Homo sapiens: one gene and its partner. The protein of the gene in region 2 purifies or fractionates together with the protein of the main gene of each other region. This does not show direct contact. Each region holds a gene or a part of one and is shown on either strand. Other genes may lie near its edges.

The links.
Region 1: the proteins of CEBPG (region 2) and NBR1 purify together in Homo sapiens (affinity purification with mass spectrometry; one large-scale study listed by BioGRID and IntAct). This does not show direct contact.

What each region holds. Positions count from the first base shown.
Region 1 is NC_000017.11:43,195,214-43,198,713, forward strand, and holds part of NBR1 (next to BRCA1 gene 1 protein), read left to right. Parts: intron 1-1,267; coding exon 1,268-1,378; intron 1,379-1,728; coding exon 1,729-1,893; intron 1,894-3,500. UniProt on the Homo sapiens protein: Ubiquitin-binding autophagy adapter that participates in different processes including host defense or intracellular homeostasis.
Region 2 is NC_000019.10:33,379,948-33,383,186, reverse strand, and holds the end of CEBPG (CCAAT/enhancer-binding protein gamma), read right to left. Parts: 3' UTR 501-3,239; downstream 1-500. UniProt on the Homo sapiens protein: Transcription factor that binds to the promoter and the enhancer regions of target genes. Binds to the enhancer element PRE-I (positive regulatory element-I) of the IL-4 gene. Binds to the promoter and the enhancer of the immunoglobulin heavy chain.

The DNA.
Region 1 (3,500 bases), on a different chromosome or scaffold from region 2:
AACAACATGCTGGGCATGGTGGCTCGTGTCTATAATCCCAGCTCTTTGGGAGGCCAAGGCAGGAGGATCACTTGAGGCCAGGGTTTGAGACCAGCCTGGGCAACATGGTGAAACCCCCATCTCTACAAAAATTACTTTTAAAAATTAGCTGGGTGTGGCCAGGCACGGTGGCTCACGCCTGTAATCCCAGCACTTTGGGAGGCTGAGACGGGCAGATCACCTGAGGTCGGGAGTTTGAGACCAGCCTGACCAACATGGAGAAACCCCTTCTCTACTAAAAATACAAAATTAGCTGGGCATGGTGGCACATGCCTGTAATCCGAACTACTCGGGAGGCTGAGGCGGGAGAATTGCTTGAACCCAGAAGGCGGAGGTTGTGGTGAGCTGAGATTGCACCATTGCACTCCAGCCAGGACAACAAGAGCAAAACTCCGTCTCAAAAAAAAAAAAAAAAAAAATTAGCTTGGCATGGTGGCCTGCACCTGTGGTCCCAGCTACCAGGGAGACTGAAGTGGGAGAATCTCCTGATCCCAGGAGGCAGAGGCTGCAGTGAGCCAGGATTGTGCCATTGCTCTCCAGCCTGGATGACAGAGTGAAACCCAATCTCAAAAAACAAACAAAAAAAAGAGGCTGGGCACGGTAGCTCACGCCTGTAATCCCAGCACTTTGGGAGGCCAAGGCTGGTGGATCACAAGGTCAGAAGTTCAAGACCAGCCTGGCCAAGATGGTGAAACCCCATCTCTACTAAAAATACAAAAATTAGCCAGGCATGGTGGCAGGTGCCTGTAATCCCAGCTACTCGGGAGGCTGAGGCAGAGAGTTGCTTGAACCTGGGAGGCGGAGGTTGCAGTGAGCCGAGATTGTGCCACTGCATTCTAGCCTGGGTGACAGAGCAAGACTGCATCTCAAAAAAAAAAAAAAAAGCAATAAAACAAGTTCGTGCAAGGCTTTTCCACTATAAAGGAATCCTCTTCTCTTTTTTCCCTCTAGATACTTGTGTCCTTTTGTTCCTTTATGTTCATGGTTTTGTGTCTTGGCCACAGCTTTCCAGGCTAAATAACTGTGATTCTTCCTGCATTGATTGATCTGAGATATTTTGCTTACTTATTGGTCTGGAGAAATTTTTTGTAACAGACCTCAAAGCATATCTTGGTTTATTTTAGCCCTGCGGGAGGCAAGAAGCCTACAAACTGCTACTTCTGGACACTGACTGTTGATGATATGATGCTTTCTCTTGATTGATGGTTCTCCTGTCTTCATTCTCCAGATGTGACTCCCTGCATGTCTCCTCTGCCACATGACAGTCCTTTAATAGAGAAGCCAGGCTTGGGGCAGATAGAGGAAGAGAATGAAGGGGCAGGATTTAAAGCACTTCCTGGTAAGGGATTAAACATTTGTAAAGTATTTGCATCCTCCCTTTCCATATCATACCCTATTTTACAGCTATCCCCTACTGACCCTACCTTAGCATGTAAATGGGCTTGCTTTCTGTAGCATCTCATGTTTTGAAGTCTCCTCACCTTCACATGGCACAGATAGCAGCTATTCCTTGGTTTAGTTTTAGCATGGGTAATGACTGGTGAATGTTCTTCAGCACTTTAAACACCAAGTGCAGACAAAGTTTAGATAGCAGCTATTCCTTGGTTTAGTTTTAGCATGGGTAATGACTGGTGAATGTTCCTCAGCACTTTAAACACCCAGTGCAGATAAGGTTCGTGTGTCTTTCAGATTCTATGGTGTCAGTAAAGAGGAAGGCTGAGAACATTGCTTCTGTGGAGGAAGCAGAAGAAGACCTGAGTGGGACCCAGTTTGTGTGTGAGACAGTAATCCGATCCCTTACCTTGGATGCTGCCCCAGACCACAACCCTCCTTGCAGACAGAAGTCCTTGCAGAGTGAGTGTCCTTGCATTTCCCCTACCTAGCAGGGTGGCACCTGAATTGTGACTGCCAGACTTGACTAGTTAGATGTGCTCTTCTTCACTGAGACTGAAGGGAGAGTGATCTTAGTTAGAAGTTCTGATCTTGGCGGGGCGTGGTGGCTCAAGCCTGTAATCCCAGCACTTTGGGAGGCCAAGGCAGGCGGATCACAAGGTCAGGAGATCAAGTCCATCCTGGCTAACATGGTGAAATCCCATCTCTACTAAAAATACAAAAAATTAGCCTGGCGACGTGGCGGGTGCCTGTAGTCCCAGCTACTCGGGAGGCTGAGGCAGGAGAATGGCATGAACCCGGGAGGCGGAGCTTGCAGTGAGCCAAGATTGCGCCACTGCACTCTAGCCTGGGCGACAAAGCGAGACTCCATCTCAAAAAAAAAAAAAGAAATTCTGATCTTGTTTGTGTCTTTAGACTCTACGTATGCTACCTGACTGTTCTAATTAGAGCATCAGGAGTAAAGAAGCCATCATACTCATTTCTCCATCTTCTCAGGGGCAGAATTACAGCTGCATTCCACAGTGGAATAGCAGCCAGTTGTGCTGCCTGGATTCTGCAGTAAGGAATCTTCCTGTAATTTGACAGAGCTCCTTAGCAGAGACCCCTATGGGTAGCTGAGTTGTCTGCTTTCTCCAAGGGCAGCAGTCCCAGAAACAGTGGATAGAAGCAGGAGTACCAACAAAGTTTCTCAAGGTTAAATTCTGCTGTAATAAATACCTTTATAGGCCGGGCACAGTGGCTCACCCTTGTAATCCTAGCACTTTATGAGGCTGAGGCGGGTGGATCACCTGAGGTTGGGAGTTCGAGACCAGCCTGACCGACATGGAGAAACCCCATCTCTACTAAAAATACTAAAAATTAGCCAGGTGTGGTGGCTACATGCCAAGGATTACATGCCTGTAATCCCAGGTACTTGGGAGGCTGAGGCAGGAGAATCACTTTAACCCGGGAGGCGAAGGCTGTGGTTAGCCGAGATGGCGCCATTGCACTCCAGCCTGGCAACAAGAGTGAAACTCCGTCTCAAAAAAAAAAAAAGGAATAAATACCTTTATAACAGAAACTTCTAGGTATCAGATAGATAGAACCAATAGCATATATTTTAAGAAGTATCCAAAAATTCAAATATACTATGTCAAAATAATATTGGAGAATCTCTTTATTATAATCAAATTTGACCTATATCTTTAAATATTATTTATCTTACTTTTGTTTAAAGTATACATGTAAGGCCAGGCGCAGTGGCTCACGCCTGTAATCCCAGCACTTTGTGAGGCCGAGGCGGACAGATCACAAGCTCAGGAGTTTGAGACCAGCCTGACCAACATGGAGAAACCCCATTTCTACTAAAAATACAAAAATTAGCTGGGCGTGGTAGCGTGTGCCTGTGATCCAGCTACTCAAGACGCTGAGGCAGGAGAACTGCTTGAACCCGGGAAGCCAAGGTTGCAGTGAGCTGAGATCGCACCACTGCACTCCAGCCTGGGTGACAGAGCGAGACTCCGTCTAAAAAAAAAAAATAATAAAGTGTACATGTGGCCAGGTGCGGTGGCTCATACCTGTAATCCCAG
Region 2 (3,239 bases):
TATGAAATCAGCAAATTCATCTCTACAGACACTCTATGACGTAAATGAGGACAGTGTCCACATGTACTACAAAACTCCAGATGGGGAAAGGCCTTACTTTAAATTCTTGACTATCTATCTCGAAACATAAGAATTTCTTCCCTCTCTAAATGGAAACCATGTTCTGAGACACTAGGTGATTAAGCGGGAACCCATTTATTCAGTTATTCCTTTCCCTATTCTGGTATAATTTTTAGTTTAGACCAAGTGACTAAAAATATAACTAAAGATGTATCCCATGTTCAGAGAAAACTATTTTCCTATCCACTAAGGGCAAACGGGGAGATCTAGACTTGGACACAAATACCTCTGCCTGTCTCCCCACTTTCCCCACCCCTACCCCCAGCCGTCCAGTGTGGGAACAGGAAAGACAGCAAGGCACCTGCCTGGGCTTCCCAGCTGTTTAACATCTGGACTGCTTTTTGGTATCTAATATAAAGAAAGCCACGATGAAAGACAAGTCATTGTTCCAAAGTTGTTTTTTATTTTATATTTGTTGAAAGAAATAAAATTATATTTAAAAAAAATAGAGAAATCTCACAAACTGATGAAAGCCAGGAACAAAAAGAACAAGTTAGTACTTTTTCCTGAGAGGCAGATCTAACAGCTGCAGAATGGACTTCTTCCTTCCCAGCTTTTGTGAAACAAAACAATTCTCCTAAGGCATCAGAAAGCACTGAGTGCAAAATGGGTTGTTCAGGTACAAGGTCTCAAGCCCTCTAATGGGGACTGGGAAACGTGAAAAGCTGCTACAATTTCCTCTCCTTTAATACCAAATGTTAAACTGTCTATACTTCTACTTTTTATGTAAATTTGAGAATTTCACACTCATGACCTGCATTTCGGACCTGGTCGTGTTTGATTAAAATCTTACTACTTAGTGATCTGCACTGGCATCCCAACAACTGATTGCAGGGGCCAGCAGCAGGAAGAGCTGCTCTGATCTCACCATCCGCAGCCAAAACCAGCCAAAGAGCACCCATCCCAGGAGACTCAGATGCAGCTAGAAATTTATGCTAAAGCCTAACTCCTAACTATGCTGGACCTGCCCACAAGGGCAGATCACATCCTAGTGGTTCACAGGTCACACACAGAACAAAAGTTACAAAAGTCACCTCACAATTCCCGAAGCTCTAAATTGATTCATTCCCCACACGTGGTTTCCCTAATTTTATACTGATAAATCTATCAAATTAAAAGCTTTCATTTCCAACCACTTCAATAAGATAGACAACACCATGCTTAACATTTTTGTTCTCTGCCTAATTGCTTGCTTCTGCTAAACTTTGCATTTCCATGGCTAATAGGAAAGCTTGAACCCATTTTTCCAAAAGTTCCAATCTTGTGTTCTGATTTGAAATACTGAGTACACACCCCTGATGCTTTCTCTAAAGTTTCTTTTTCAAGATACTTAAGTCAATTCATATAACTGGTATAAATTCCATGGGAGCATCGAATTCCCAAGAGATTTAAATGTCTGTAGCGCCTACCATAGGTGCTTGCTTATACATTCAAGTGACCTAATGCATCTCCAATTAAGTTAATTATGTAACACCAATCAGCTGCTAAGGAGCCAGTAGGATCCTGTGGGTGTGTCCTGGCTAGTTTTTCAAAACATCTCTCATCCTTCATGGGTAGATTCATACTCCAAGGTAAGCTGGTGTTGGACCCTAGAAACCCCTATCCTGTCTCCTGGCTCTATAGGGAGTTAACAGCCCTCCTGGGACAGCTTCTCCTGGGCTCCAGTTTTACATTCAGAAGGACCTCACGACTCTTAAGAATGGCTTTGCTGAGTTGCTGGACACCATGATGTCTTCTCCTGCCCAGAAACGGCACGGTCAGCAATCTTCCACCAACCGGAGGGTGCAACTTGAGTTTTATTCTGGCTACATCATCCCAAGTCCTAGTATGAAACAGCAATGTGGCCAAAAATGACCATGTTCAAATAAGATACCTGATAACACAAACTTTTAAATCAGTTATGACTCAGTCTCTCATCTCCAGCCCAGGCACACAAAAAATACACAAATTTGAGCTAGAACTGTGCTAAGAAAAAAAGAGAAAGAAAAGAAAGCAAAAGAGAGAAGAAAAAACGTTGACAAAGACAATCTAAACTACCAACACTGACGTAAGCCAGACTCTAGAGTCCCTACTTTAGCGACTGCCATTTTTTAGTCTCAACAAAAATGTCAATATCCTGAGTTTTATCAGCATTTTCTGAAATAATTTATGGGACACAAAAGCATATAAATGAATAAACAGAAGCAGTGGTACAAAGTCTGGAAAGCCCACTAACCAGAAAAAGAAATGTCACAACAACAATATCAAAAGATGTATTTAAGAGAAATAAATTAAAGGTTAAAACCTTACACTTTCAAGTTTTCTTAGACAATTATTTTGGGAGATGGCATGGAGTTGATACATTTCTCTAATAATCACTTGGTTAAGATCAAATACCAAAATGAGCCTTCAGAAGAAAATTTTGACTTTAAAAGTAACAGCCCCATGGCAGCTATTTTGAACACAAGAGAAACTACCTTCTGAATTAATATTCCAAACCCTCATCAGTAGCTTGTGTCATCAAACTGTTAAGATATTTTGTTTACTAACTTGGTTGTCAAAATTGTATCCAAAAAAACACTAGCATCTGCAGAAACTAAAATTTTGGTACACAAGTTTCTCTACACCACTGAGTTGGGTTTTTAGAATAAAACAATGCCAATCTAAGCCCAAAGGTATCTCAAAAACATAATTCCTATGCTTTAGTTTTATTTTTGTGTTTAATCTATTTGCTTCCTAAATGTTATTTGTATTTTTTAAGTCAATTGGCCACACACTACCTATAAGATGTGATGAAGTTTCTTTACTTAACCTGACATTGCTACTCAAAAACTTGTACTTTTGGGGGAAAACAGTACTAATTATGTTAAAACAAAGTTTATGCCATATATAAAATCACTCCAAATTACACACTCATTGCTTTCTATAGCTCTACGAATTTATAATACATAATTTAGAAGAAAATCACAAATAGATTACCATAGGTGGCATTCAACTTTTCTTAATCCAATTCAGCCTATCCATTAAAACCAAGAACCTTCTGCGCGGCCTGCCAGTTCCCCATTCCTTTTGTCAACTTAAAAAAGAAGCATTTCTTGGGAAGTCAGGATTTATTAAGAACATCGGGATCCCAGATATTT